4 linked regions of the Homo sapiens genome follow. The protein of the gene in region 1 purifies or fractionates together with the protein of each later gene. This does not show direct contact. Each region holds a gene or a part of one and is shown in the gene's direction. Other genes may lie near its edges.

Region 1 (3,500 bases):
ACTGCCATTAAAATCCTTCAGCATCATTTTATTCAAATTGTACAACACCAGATGGTAACCCTTTTGGGAAGAGAGCCCCTGACGTGTTTTTAACTTCCGTCTCCCTGGCTCATTGGCTATGTTTTTATTTAATGCATAGAAACAATATTTTAAAGTTTATAGTATAGTTTCATAGTTGCATAGAAACAATATTTTAAAGTTTATACTATGGTTTCATAGTTAAAAAAATTCATAAATGAAATAGGACACAGGAAACAATGTGAATCAAGAAAACTTTGGGGGAAGCATGCTTTCATTCTACACTGCAGGTTGTGTTTCCCCAATCAAAAAAATGAAAAGGAAAAGGAAACTTCAGGAACACAAGCAGAACACATGGCTTACCACAGGGAACCAGGCCCTGCAGGCCAGGGAGGATTCCTGTTAAAGCTGCTTTCCTTGAATGTCCCTGTTTTCTCGTGTGTTGGATTTTTTTTTTTTTTTTTTTTGGCTCTTTTTTTCCCTACTTGAGTCCTCACTAAAATACTCCTCTCTTCCCTTCATCTTGTTCTTTCTTATTCTGCTTCCTGCCGAAAGACAACTCTAGCCTATAAGCCAAACATGGCTGAAGCCTGGGCATGGTGGATCACACCTGTAATTCCAGCACTCTGGGAGGCCGAGGCAGATGGATCACCTGAGTTCAGGAGTTCGAGACCAGCCTGGCCAACATGGTGAAACCCTGTCTCTACTAAAAATACAAAAATTAGCTGGGCATGGTGGTATGCACCTGTAATGCCAGCTACTTGGGAGGCTGAGGAAGGATAATCACTTGAACTCAGGAGGAGGAGGTTGTAGTGAGCCGAGATTGCTCCACTGCACTCCAGCCTCGGTGACAGAGATAGACTCCATCTTGAAACAAAAACAAAAACAAAAGCAAAACATGGCTGACTTCTTTTCCTTATATGTCCTACGTGAGAATAATCAAATTAATTCAGTGTTCAATAAACATTTATTGCATGTGTATAAATTACACAGAAAATCAGAGCTGGAAGGGGATTGAGAGCATCTAATTCAACTCATTCATTTCACAGAAAACTCCACTAGAACCTAAAATAGCTTATTGACTTGCTCAAGATCTTACCAACTGGTAGAAAGAGGTCAAAAAGTACCTCTCTAGGATAGCCTGCTTCTGCTATTAAGGAATCAAAATGTGAACTTGACTAAACCAGTCTAATTATATCAGTAATAATTTACTCTTTATTAAAGAGTTACTCTGCTATAGATTAGACACTAGCCTCGGCAGTTTTATATACCTCATTCCATTGAATCCCCACAACAGTCCTAGTACATAGATATAATGATCCCTAACGCTTCAGCTAAAAGATTGAATAACTTGCCCAAGTTTATAATTATTAAGTAGGGGATCCAGGAACTGACTGCAAAGCTCATGCTCACAACCTTTAACCGGTATATACTCCCATGACAACAATGAACATTTATGGAGCACTTACTATGTGCCAGGCACCACATTAAATATGTTAACGTACATTATCTGCAACCTTCCCGAAAGCTCTGCAAGACTGATATTATTAGAATCATATATTTTATTTCTTTTCTTTTCTTTTCTTTGAGATGGGAGTCTCGCTCTGTCGCCCAGGCTGGAGTGCAGTGGTGAGATGTTGGCTCACTGCAACCTCTGCCTCCTGGGTTCAAGCGATTCTAATGCCTCAACCTCCGAAGTAGCTGAGATTACAGGTGTGCACCATCACGCCCAGCTAATTTTTGTATTTTTAGTAGAGATGGGGTTCCGCCATGTTGGACAGGCTGGTCTTGAACTCCTGACCTCAGGTGATTCGCCTATCACTGCCTCCCATAGTGCTGGGATTACAGGTGTGAGCCACCATGCCTGGTCATTAAAATCATATATTTCTTTCCCGTAGGCTACAGTACCATCAAGATAAGACAGTATTTTAATGACACAAAGTGAGGCCTAACCAATCCTAAACTGCACATTAGCTTTAGACTTAAGAACGGGGGATATTTTAGAATGTTTCCAATTATACTGTTGATATAAGGTAAATCTTTCTTCTGGTTAAACATGCTGCAGTGGATGTGGTCTTCATTCTAAAGCTTCAGGCAGGCCCCATATCATGAGTCCAGGCAAGGCTTTTGAGGCTGTAGACAGTTGCACTAGAAGCACTCCAAGGAGCCAAGTCCTCATCTACCTCCCTGAACTCAGCCCCCCCGCTGTTTAAGATTTTTGAGAAGATTGAAAGGAGAGTGCTCTAGAAGACTTCATTCATGTAAAGAATTACGGTAAGAGTATACATTGATGCCCATTAAAAAGACTACAAATTTACTACAGTGTTTCTCATGCTACTAAGAGAATAACCTCCATATAAGTGATTTTTTGTGTGGTCCAAGAGACTGGAAAGTGAGAATTGAAAGAAAAAAAGCTCTCGTTGATTCTTTGTAACTTAAAGTCGCTGCAGGAAGAACATGGCAAGGTCTCTGCACAATTATTCTTTGCTTTCTTTTCAGTTCATTAATCTATGCTTAAATCGAATTAACTTGGTATCCTAATGCATTCCTTTCTATCATTTTTCAGCTGAAGGCCTGAAAAACCTGAAGAAGATGTGTTTATTTCATTTGACCCACTTGTCTGACATTGGAGAGGGAATGGATTACATAGTCAAGTCTCTGTCAAGTGAACCCTGTGACCTTGAAGAAATTCAATTAGTCTCCTGCTGCTTGTCTGCAAATGCAGTGAAAATCCTAGGTAACTGTTGCTTCCATTAACTGAATGAGGACAGTATAACAGAACATGTGATACTATTATACTAATTCACACTAAATGTCTCAAATGGAAATTTAATTTTAAGGAAAACTGGAAAATAAAAACTTCTCGATAATAAGCAGATTGTTTTTAATGATTTTTCTCCATATTAGAATTAAATCAACTATTGATGGATAATAGGGGAGAATTTCAGAATAATTGAAGATGTAATTTTTAGAGAAAGTGAAAAGGAAGAAAATAAGAAATAGGTGCTTGAAACTTGCCACACAACCGGTCATATAATTTACTGCCTAATAAACATTTAAATGAATGGATAAATGATTGAGAAGTGAGAGATAAAGATTTTCTTAAATGATCTCAGGCTTCTAATTCCTACCCATTGCCCTGTTAAGATGAAGTTAATGTGCATGATATGATAATTGAGCCTTCTGAGTTCCCAAAGGGATGCATATCAACTACGGGGAAACTAACTGCATATTTCTGGATAAACTATACATGTGTAATTCAGACATATTTTAAAATTTAGATTTTGGAAAACAGTGGTATAATCTTTTTAAAGTTAAACTATATAACTGCTGGGAGTCTCTAAAGATAACTAAGGAAGCCATTTGTATACTAATATAAAGTTACAGCTAGAGAAACCCACAGTTGAAAAAGGCTGGATAAGTACTGGGAATATGAGAACAATGAGCACATGCCTTTATTTCTCTACTTACTGATGGGGAGA
Region 2 (3,500 bases), on another chromosome or scaffold:
GAGTGCCCCCAAATGAGGCAGGGGTATCCAGCTGTCTGCATTCCCCACAGCACTTAGTAAACCACACCCGCATTCATCTCATATTTGAGAATAAAGATGATTATCAGTTTATTCTGTTTTTGTTTTGTTTTAGTTTGTTTTTTTGAGACAGAGTCTCGCTCTGTCACCCAGGCTGGAGTGCAGTGGCGCAATCTTCGCCTCTTGTGTTCAAGCAATTCTCCTGCCTCAGCCTCCCGAGTAGGTGAGACTACAAGGGTGCACCACCATGCCTGGCTAATTTTTTAATTTTTAGTAGAGATGTGGTTTCACCATGTTGGCCAGACTGATCTCAAACTCCTGACCTCAGGTGATCCGCCTGCCTCAGCCTCCCAAAGTGCTGGGATTACAGGCGTGAGCCACTGCCCCCGGCCAGTTCATTCTGTTTTCTAATCTTTGATGTGATCAGTGGTCCAACAGTGTAAAGTTGCTAGGCCTCATACAGTCCTCAGTCATTAATTTGAGTTTTCCTTCAGAGAAAATTCAATTGGACGTGCTTGGGATTGAACTCATGGCCTGAACTTCATTGACATTATTTCCAACTGAAAAAACTGGTCTGTGTGGTTTTACATTGTTTTCATGTAATATATTAAAGTGTTCTTGACCCCATGGGACAAAATGTCGTACACAAATCAACCCCCCCCCACACACACACCCACACACACCATACACCTTCTTTCTCCTAGCAACAAATGAACAATGGTATTAATCACAAAATATGTCCACTTTGAGCTCACCAGAAAGGTTCCTGCATTTCCTCTCTTACATCAAGCTTTATTTTATTATTTCAAATTATAAATACATTCCAGTTGCCGTAGTCACCTCAGGATGAGAGTATAAAGTTAACATTATAACATAAACATTCAATGAAATAGATTAAGCCATTAAAATCTTCTGGCAGCATCATAAGGTTGTTATAAAAGTGCATGTTAGAGGAGGGACAAAAAGTCCTTTAACAAGTTACAAACCTACGGCCATGAATATTTTTCTTACTCCTAGGGAAAACACATTTTTAACCAGCATTTTATTATGAAAATTTTCAAACACACAGAAGACAAGTTTAAGGAATTCTATAGTGAACACCCAAGTACTCACCACCTAGATTCTACAATTAACATTTTGTTTCACATATTTATCCATCTATCAATTCGTGTGTGTGTGTGTGTGTGTGTGTGTATGTACTTCAAAGTTAATCACAGACATCAGTATTCTTCCCACTTCAGCATCCATATTTTTACCTAGAGAGGAAATCCAAATTTTAAAAGCCAGGTATTCTCTCAGTCTGGAAAAGTCACTGATTAAGTCTGGGACTGACTTTAGTCCCGCCCTGTAAGGACTTATGAAAACAGAGATAGGTAACATGTTGTGGTCTCCCAGTGAAATGCTAGATGGCAAGCTGCCCTGTGCTGGAGGATTTCCGAGCCATAGCTTCTGCTTTAACTGGGGTGGTTTGGGGCATCTTTTGGATGTGGAACACACACACGTGTGTGCGTGCATGCATGCATGCAGTCACACTATATAATCACCATTTTTCACAGCAATATGACAAAGTGGGTATTATATCTGCTTTATAGTGGAGGGAATGTGCTGGGGTGGGGATAGTAGGTGACTCGGCTATGGCTACACAGCTAGTATGTGTCAGGAAGGGAAACTGCACATTTTTTCTGTGGCTCTGGAGCCGGAACCACTTTCCATTCTCTAAGAGATTTCCTTGCTTCAGTGGCCTTTGGTATTACCTCTTCATTTGGTTCTCATTCAATTCCCATTGGCCTGCTGGAAAGCATCAAGAGGACTGCATACTGAGAACTGGTCCTTGGAGTAGTTGATTTAGAAGAGTGACTATAGTTCAGAGTAGCCAAGTCAAGGCTTTAAGAATCAGGCTAAAGGTAAGTAGGATGAGCATGGAAAGTCAGAATCCTGTCTGTCTCTAATTATTATGATTTCCTGATTTGTTTTCAGGTGTTTTGAAGTCTTCTGCATCTACTTTCAGTCAGGCAACAATGAAGAGCCTTATGTCAGTATCACCAAGAAGAGGCAAATGCCAAAAAATGGCCTCTCAGAGGAGATTGAGAAGGAGGTGGGCCAGGCAGAAGGCAAACTAATCACCCACCGATCAGCGTTCAGCCGGGCGTCGGTGATCCAGGCTTTCTTGGGCTCAGCCCCCCAGCTGACCCTACAGCTGTACATAAGTGTCATGCAGCAGGACGTCACTGTTGGAAGAAGTACGTGTATTTTTTATTTCTGCCTGCATTTGGGGATCAAAATGAGAAGCAAAATATGCAGTTTATTTTGTTTCAAAGGAAATTTGTTCTTAAGTGCACTTAATTCTGAATCTGTGTTCTAGTTACTATGCTCAAAACTCAATTAAAATAACAACGTTTATTTTGCTTATGACTCTGCATTCTAGGCAGGGCTCAAAAGGGTTACCTAATCTGTGATCCACTGTGGATCAGCTAGGGTGGCTCAAAGGTAGGGGGCTAGAATCTATTCAAGGCCCCTTCACTCACATGTCTTGTTGTTCACATGTTTTGATATTGGCTGTTGCTGGGAGTTTCAGATCTTCTCCATTTGATTTCTCTGTGTGGGTGAGTTTGGGCTTCCTTATAGCATGGTAGCTGCTTCCAAGGGTGAGTGTTCTAAGAAGGAGGGAAGGCCAGATGGAAGCCACATCAGCTTTTGTGATCCAGGCTTGGGAGTTGTGGGACATCACTTCTGCTTCCTTCTCATTGTTGAAATACTTACAGAGTTCTGCCCAGATTCAAGGGAGAGGAGAGGGAAGCAAACTCTGACTCTTGTTGTGGAATGGTAGAGTTCTAGAAGATCACCTGGGACCAAAAATACCACTGTGGCCATTTTTAGAAAATACAGTTTACCAGAGGCTGAAAACACAGCTACTGGAGGCTGCTTCTCTTGGGATTTCACTCTGTCTTTCAGTGCTAGTTCTAAACTAGTTGAGACAGTTGGCTTAACAACTTTGTGGTGAATAATGGAACAAGGCCACTTTCCTGTCTTCTTAGACTTGTAATAGGTATATCAGTTTATAAGTCAAGACAATATTCTACCTTTGGGCTATTCTCACATCATCAAATTAAGAGCAGATTTTGGTTAAGTTAAAAAAAAAAAACACTATTTGCATCAGAGTCAAGATTTTAATGAAAAGCCTACAAATGAGAAGTGGAAACAACCCCCTCCCAAGTATTAATATTATGGGTAAACGAAAACCATTATGGTAAGTTTTATTATCGGTATACAAAATGATTTAAAAGCCGTAAGTTGAAAAAATACATGTTTAAGAAAACATTGAAGATAAGAAAGACTCTTATTTATTTTACTTCACTCAGTTTTATCCTCTTTCTGCCTATGTTTTAGACTGGCTAGTAATAATTCATGTCAGAGTCACAGGATACTTACATGTTAGAGCCATCTCCCTTATCCAGGTTGCCTGATTATGATTCTTAAAATAT
Region 3 (3,500 bases), on another chromosome or scaffold:
AACAAAAGATAACGTAGATAAGCAAAAAGATGAAAAATAGTATCAATAAGAATTCCATCATTCTGTAATAACCATCATTAAAAATTGGCTGGGTGTGGTGGCTCACACCTGTAATCCCAGCACTTTGGGAGGCCGAGGCAGGTGGATCACCTGAGGTCAGGAGTTCGAGACCAGCCTGGTCAACATGGTGAAACCCCATCTCTACTAAAAATACATAAATTAGCCGAAAATGGTGTCAGGCGCCTGTAATCCCAGCTACTCAGGAGGCTGAGGCAGGAGAATCACTTGACAGGTCAGGGGCAGAGGTTGCAGTGAGCTGAGATTGTGCCACTTCACTCCAGCCTGGGAAAAAGAGCAAAACTCAGTCTCAAAAAAAAAAAAAATTAGTGGTCAATTGTAAGAACCCCAGTCTTTTTTCTGTGCACATGTCTATGGCGAAATCGAACCATATTGTACATTTTATTTTATAGTCAGTTTTATTTTCTTTATATATCAAGGCTATCTTCTTGTGAGTGGGTGTGGGGTATTTTTTTTTTTTTTTGGTTTGTTGTTGTCTGAGACGGAGTCTCGCTCTGTCCCCTAGGCTGGAGTGCAGTGGTGCAATCACAGCTCACTGCAGCCTGGACCACCCGAGTTTAAGGGATCCTCTTACCTCAGCCCCGCTAGGAGCTGAGACTACAGGAGCATGCCAACATGCAGCGATAATTTTTGTATATTTTTTGTATAGAGATGAGATTTCACTGTGTTGACCAAGCTGGTCTCAAACTCCTGGGCTCAAGCAAGCTGCTCACCTTGACCTCCCAAAGTGCTGGGATCACAGATGTGAGCCACCATGCCCAGCCCTTCATGTGTGTGTGTGTGTGTGTGTGTGTGTGTGTGTGTGTGTGTGTGTGTAGAGAGAGAGACAGAGACAGAGACAGACAGAGTCTTGCTCTGTCACCAGGCTGGCATGCGGTGGCACGATCTCTGCTCACTGCAACCTCTGCCTCCCAGGTTCAAGCAATTCTCATGCCTCAGCCTCCAGAGTAGCTGGGATTACAGGCACGCACCACCACACCCAGCTAATTTTTTGTCGTCTTAGTAGAAACGGGGTTTCACCATGTTGGCCAGGTTGGTCTTGAACTCCTGACCTCAAATGATCCTTCTGCCTCAGCCTCCCAAAGTGCTGGGATCACAGGCATGAGCCACCATGCCAGCCCTTTATATATTTTTAAGTAGTCTGATACAACACCATTTTGAATGACCACATGCTATTCCATAGGGAAAGTGCCATGGCTGATTTGACCATTCTCCTGTTCTTGGCCATTTTAAGCTGCTTCTAGTTGTTCATAGTTATAAATGTGAGGTAGGCTTTAAAGGACCTGGATACAGGTACTGCAAGTAGCAGTGGACAGGTGGGAAATCTTCAAAGAGTTCCAAGCAGCTAGAGGCAGAGACCAGATGGTGGCTGGCCGGGGGATGGGGGCTGGGATAGGCAAAGGGAACCAAGAACACCAGGCCAGAGAGGAGAGTTTGGGATGGGCGGGAGCAAGTGGAGCCTTAAGAGAATGCCGTGGGAAAGTCAGAGGCTTCAGCCACAAGTGGGAGGAGAAATTTTCAAGGAACTGAATCAGCTAGACAAGGCAGAGAGAAGAATAAGGAAGCTACTATAAAAAAAACAAGAAAGTTCAGGAAGAAAGGGTGGAGGTTGGCCAAGGGCTGTGTGAAGGAAGAGGAGAACCAACCAGAGATATTAAAGAAATGAAGATGACAGGATGGGAGCTTCCAGGTGTTTGGCATGTGATTAAGCATTGTGCATTTTCAAGTATAAATTTTTAATTTTTTTTCAGTCACCTTGATTAAGGATGGCAAATGCCAACGGAAATAAAAAATTTAAAATGTATTTTTCAAGTTTCACAAAACTAAGTAAGTGTAAAAGAAATTCAAGTAAGCTTTCATTTATGGCTTTTTTTCGTGTGTGTGTGTGTGTGTGTGTGTGTGTGTGTGTGTGTGATGGGATCTCACTGTGTCTCCCAGGAATAGTGCAGTGGCATGACCATACCTCACTGCAACCTTGGCCTCCCAGGTTCAAGCCATTCTCCTGCCTCAGCCTCCTGAGTAGCTGGGACTACAGGTGCACACCACCACATTGCCTAATTTTTTTTATTTTTTGTAGAAACAGGATCTTACTATGTTGCCCAGGCTGGTCTTAAACTCCTGGGCTCAATCGATCCTCCTGCCTCTACCTCCTCAAGTACTGGGATTACAGGCTAGAGCCACTGCACTCAGCTGGCTTTTTTTATATGTTTGTAGTACTTGTACTTTCACAGTTATTAAAACTTAAAACTGCTCTAGGACTTTTGGGATACTCTTTAGTAGCTTTTAATTCTCACATACCCCTCTGCAGCAGGTGCTATTGCTGTCCTCTTTTTGCAGCGGAGGAGACGGAGTGAGGGATAGAGAAGCAGAGCCCACATGCAGGCAGCTCCTTGCCTCTGCTTCTTGCCCCCACATGGCTCTGCAGACTTAGGGGAAAAGATGAATTCAGGTTGGGGACTTGTTGGGACAAATTAGATCAAAGAATTACTGGGATGTCAAGGTGGGGATATCCAACCAGAAAATAGAAAACTCAGTCTGAAACTTGGAATAGAGATTTGAGTAGTTGAAGCCTTGGAGGTAGATGAGGTCACTAAAGTAGTGTGTGAAAACAGATTAAATGGGTGGAAATTCCATGAGTCGGAGTCTACTCTAACACCCTCAGACAAAGCCCGTCATCTCTTCCCCTCAGGCTGCAAATATTCTCTCCTAGGGCACTCCCCACAGCCATCCCTCTCCTGCAGACCCTCTTGTTATCCTGGGAAGGGGATAGGGTCCCATGTGAGCCAACCTGGACAGCAGTGCATATGATCATATACAGTCTTCCATCACAACATCCTCAGGCCATCTCTCCCAGGCTCTGCTACTGCCTCCCGTCTTCTTTCCTGGGCACTGGGACTCCAGAATGTCTGTGCCAAAGGAACACAGGTGTGTCTGCATCAAAGGGAGGAAGGCTGTCAAATTTTTTTTAAATTAAAATTGTCAAATTTTTTTAAAAAATTTTTTTCTTATCTGCAGTGCTCAGCACCGAGGCCAGGCCCTATGCTGAGCAGTGCAGATTTAAAAAAAAAAAAAAAAAGACAAATGTCTGTCCCTGCCCTCAAGGAACTCCCAGACTGAGGCAGAAACAGACACACAAGGTGAACACTTCAGTGTGCTATGGTAAGGGCTGTAGAATGAGGAGCCACATGGAGGAGAGGGACCTAGCCCTGGGTGACGGGCAGACAGGCAGGGAGGGCTGGTCAGTACTGGAGATGGCACTACCCGCTGTGGCCTGGTGCTCAGGGGGACAAAGCCCAACTGTGTTGTGCAGGGCTGGGCACCTCAAACCCCTGCCAGACACATCACATCTCTCCTGTCCTTCTCTCTCCCCCTCAGGTTCAGGTGGGTCCCAGTCACAGATGCCTATTGGCAGATTCTCTTCT
Region 4 (3,500 bases), on another chromosome or scaffold:
AGCACACACCTGTAGTTCCAGCTACTCAGGAGGCTGAGGCAAGAGGACTGCTTGAGCCCCAGAGTCTAAGGCTGCAGCGAGCTATGATTGTGCCCCTACACTCCAGCCTGGGTGACAGAGTGAGACCCTGTCTCTAAAAAAGGAAAGAAAAAAATTAAAAAGCCTTGCCAGGTTTGATTCTAGGCAAAGTATTCTGTCACCGTTGAGTGCCAGTCCTTATTTCCAAACTAATGGAAGACCCCATCAGTTAACTGATTAGTTCAATAAGTATTTTTTGCTGTATCCACCACATGCCAAGACCCTACACTGTGCTGGATGTCAGGGAGACAGTGGTGAGCAGACACAGACAGGGTTCCTGCCCTCAGGGAGCTTCAAGTCAGCTGGAAGAGACCACCAGTCAGCAATCTCAAAAATGTGTCAGGACAGCGGCAGTCCAAGGCATGTGAGAACATATCATTAGGGCCAGGATCTGCTCTGGGGCAGGAGTCTTCTTTCCCTGCTTTTGAACTCTCCACTTTGAGACAGCTGTTGGTAACATACCAGCACCAAGGACCTAAGTCCTGCCTTTTAAAGAATCCAATATGTTGTTGGAAACAGAAGCACAAGACAGGTGTGTGCTTAGGGGAAACAAGGCCAGCCGGCAGAGTGTCAGTGCTAGGCTCCAGCTTCCACAGCCCCTGCAGGTGCCTGCCAGCCACTGCTAGCTTCTGACTCTGTCTGCTCCTTCCTGTCTCCCCTTGTTTCCTTCCCCCATGAAAAAAAAAGAAAGTATTCCCATGAGGAATCATTCTTTCGAAAGACTTCTCTGTTGGTTCCGTTAGCCAGCTACTTTACTAGCTTTTACAGTGTAATTCACTCTACAAGCAGTCTCACACAAAAGACTACATATTGTATGATTCTGTTTATATGAAATGTCCAGAAAAGGTAAATCTATAGACAAAGCAAATCAGTAGTTGCCTACGGCCCAGGGATTGGCTACAAATAGGCTCCAGAAAACTCTGGGAAGATGGTAGAGATGTTCTAGACCTGGACTGTGGTGAGGTTTGCACAACTTTGTAAACTTACTAAAAATTACTGACAAATATATAACACTCCCTAACACTTTGGGAGGCCGAGGTGGGCAGATCGCTTGAACCCAGGAATTTGAGACCAGCCTGGGCAACATGGCGAGACCCCGTCTCTACAAAAAAACACAAAAATTAGTTGGGCTTGGTGGCATATGCCTGTGTCCCAGCTACTTGGGAGGCTGAGGTGGGAGGATTGCTTGAGCCTGGGAGTTTGAGACTGCATGATTGGGTCACTGCACCCTAGCCTGAGTGACAGAGCAGGACCCTATCTCTAACAACAAAAAAGCAGTGTTGGTGGAGGAGGGCCAGCGTGGCCATCTGGCCTGGCCCTCGAGTGCGAGGGGCTTCAGTGTTTAGCTGCAGTTCAGTGATGACACTGTGCGGAGGAATAAGGGTGGCCTGTCTCAGACACTGATCCCAGCTGAAGTTTGTCACCTTCTTTCTGGCAAATCTGAGGTCAAGCAGAGAGATCAAAGCCTGGGGCCCTCAGGGTCAGGAATGCTGGCTCTGTGACGCTCCCCAGGTCCTGCATCTGAGGAGTGGCTGCGCTGGCCTCAGGGCCCAGGTTGTGAATTTTGTTTATGCACTCGCCTCTCCTCTTTGAGACCTCCCTGTTTGATGCTGTTTCTGCCTCTCTCCTCACCCTGCTGCTGTGCCCTGCCACCCCCTCCCTCCAGTGAGCAGGTATACCCAGCAGCTGCGACACCATCTGGGCCGTGACTCCAAGTTCGTGCTGTGCTATGCCCAGAAGGAGGAGCTGCTGCTGGAGGAGATCTACATGGACACCATCATGGAGCTGGTTGGCTTCAGCAATGAGAGCCTGGGCAGCCTGAACAGCCTGGCCTGCCTCCTGGACCACACCACCGGCATCCTCAATGAGCAGGGTGAGACCATCTTCATCCTGGGTGATGCTGGGGTGGGCAAGTCCATGCTGCTACAGCGGCTGCAGAGCCTCTGGGCCACGGGCCGGCTAGACGCAGGGGTCAAATTCTTCTTCCACTTTCGCTGCCGCATGTTCAGCTGCTTCAAGGAAAGTGACAGGCTGTGTCTGCAGGACCTGCTCTTCAAGCACTACTGCTACCCAGAGCGGGACCCCGAGGAGGTGTTTGCCTTCCTGCTGCGCTTCCCCCACGTGGCCCTCTTCACCTTCGATGGCCTGGACGAGCTGCACTCGGACTTGGACCTGAGCCGCGTGCCTGACAGCTCCTGCCCCTGGGAGCCTGCCCACCCCCTGGTCTTGCTGGCCAACCTGCTCAGTGGGAAGCTGCTCAAGGGGGCTAGCAAGCTGCTCACAGCCCGCACAGGCATCGAGGTCCCGCGCCAGTTCCTGCGGAAGAAGGTGCTTCTCCGGGGCTTCTCCCCCAGCCACCTGCGCGCCTATGCCAGGAGGATGTTCCCCGAGCGGGCCCTGCAGGACCGCCTGCTGAGCCAGCTGGAGGCCAACCCCAACCTCTGCAGCCTGTGCTCTGTGCCCCTCTTCTGCTGGATCATCTTCCGGTGCTTCCAGCACTTCCGTGCTGCCTTTGAAGGCTCACCACAGCTGCCCGACTGCACGATGACCCTGACAGATGTCTTCCTCCTGGTCACTGAGGTCCATCTGAACAGGATGCAGCCCAGCAGCCTGGTGCAGCGGAACACACGCAGCCCAGTGGAGACCCTCCACGCCGGCCGGGACACTCTGTGCTCGCTGGGGCAGGTGGCCCACCGGGGCATGGAGAAGAGCCTCTTTGTCTTCACCCAGGAGGAGGTGCAGGCCTCCGGGCTGCAGGAGAGAGACATGCAGCTGGGCTTCCTGCGGGCTTTGCCGGAGCTGGGCCCCGGGGGTGACCAGCAGTCCTATGAGTTTTTCCACCTCACCCTCCAGGCCTTCTTTACAGCCTTCTTCCTCGTGCTGGACGACAGGGTGGGCACTCAGGAGCTGCTCAGGTTCTTCCAGGAGTGGATGCCCCCTGCGGGGGCAGCGACCACGTCCTGCTATCCTCCCTTCCTCCCGTTCCAGTGCCTGCAGGGCAGTGGTCCGGCGCGGGAAGACCTCTTCAAGAACAAGGATCACTTCCAGTTCACCAACCTCTTCCTGTGCGGGCTGTTGTCCAAAGCCAAACAGAAACTCCTGCGGCATCTGGTGCCCGCGGCAGCCCTGAGGAGAAAGCGCAAGGCCCTGTGGGCACACCTGTTTTCCAGCCTGCGGGGCTACCTGAAGAGCCTGCCCCGCGTTCAGGTCGAAAGCTTCAACCAGGTGCAGGCCATGCCCACGTTCATCTGGATGCTGCGCTGCATCTACGAGACACAGAGCCAGAAGGTGGGGCAGCTGGCGGCCAGGGGCATCTGCGCCAACTACCTCAAGCTGACCTACTGCAACGCCTGCTCGGCCGACTGCAGCGCCCTCTCCTTCGTCCTGCATCACTTCCCCAAGCGGCTGGCCCTAGACCTAGA

Evidence for each region. The genes of interacting proteins can lie anywhere in the genome.
Region 2: the proteins of NLRC4 (region 1) and XK purify together in Homo sapiens (affinity purification with western blotting, with the first as the bait; one study listed by BioGRID). This does not show direct contact.
Region 3: the proteins of NLRC4 (region 1) and NLRP1 purify together in Homo sapiens (affinity purification with western blotting, with the first as the bait; one study listed by BioGRID). This does not show direct contact.
Region 4: the proteins of NLRC4 (region 1) and NOD1 purify together in Homo sapiens (affinity purification with western blotting, with the first as the bait; one study listed by BioGRID). This does not show direct contact.

What each region holds. Positions count from the first base shown.
Region 1 is NC_000002.12:32,237,387-32,240,886, reverse strand, and holds part of NLRC4 (NLR family CARD domain-containing protein 4), read left to right. Parts: intron 1-2,584; coding exon 2,585-2,755; intron 2,756-3,500.
Region 2 is NC_000023.11:37,692,291-37,695,790, forward strand, and holds part of XK (endoplasmic reticulum membrane adapter protein XK), read left to right. Parts: intron 1-1,995; coding exon 1,996-2,258; intron 2,259-3,500.
Region 3 is NC_000017.11:5,553,510-5,557,009, reverse strand, and holds part of NLRP1 (NACHT, LRR and PYD domains-containing protein 1), read left to right. Parts: intron 1-2,411; exon of another isoform or gene 2,412-2,504; intron 2,505-2,866; exon of another isoform or gene 2,867-3,009; intron 3,010-3,453; coding exon 3,454-3,500.
Region 4 is NC_000007.14:30,451,285-30,454,784, reverse strand, and holds part of NOD1 (nucleotide-binding oligomerization domain-containing protein 1), read left to right. Parts: intron 1-1,744; coding exon 1,745-3,500. UniProt on the Homo sapiens protein: Pattern recognition receptor (PRR) that detects bacterial peptidoglycan fragments and other danger signals and thus participates in both innate and adaptive immune responses.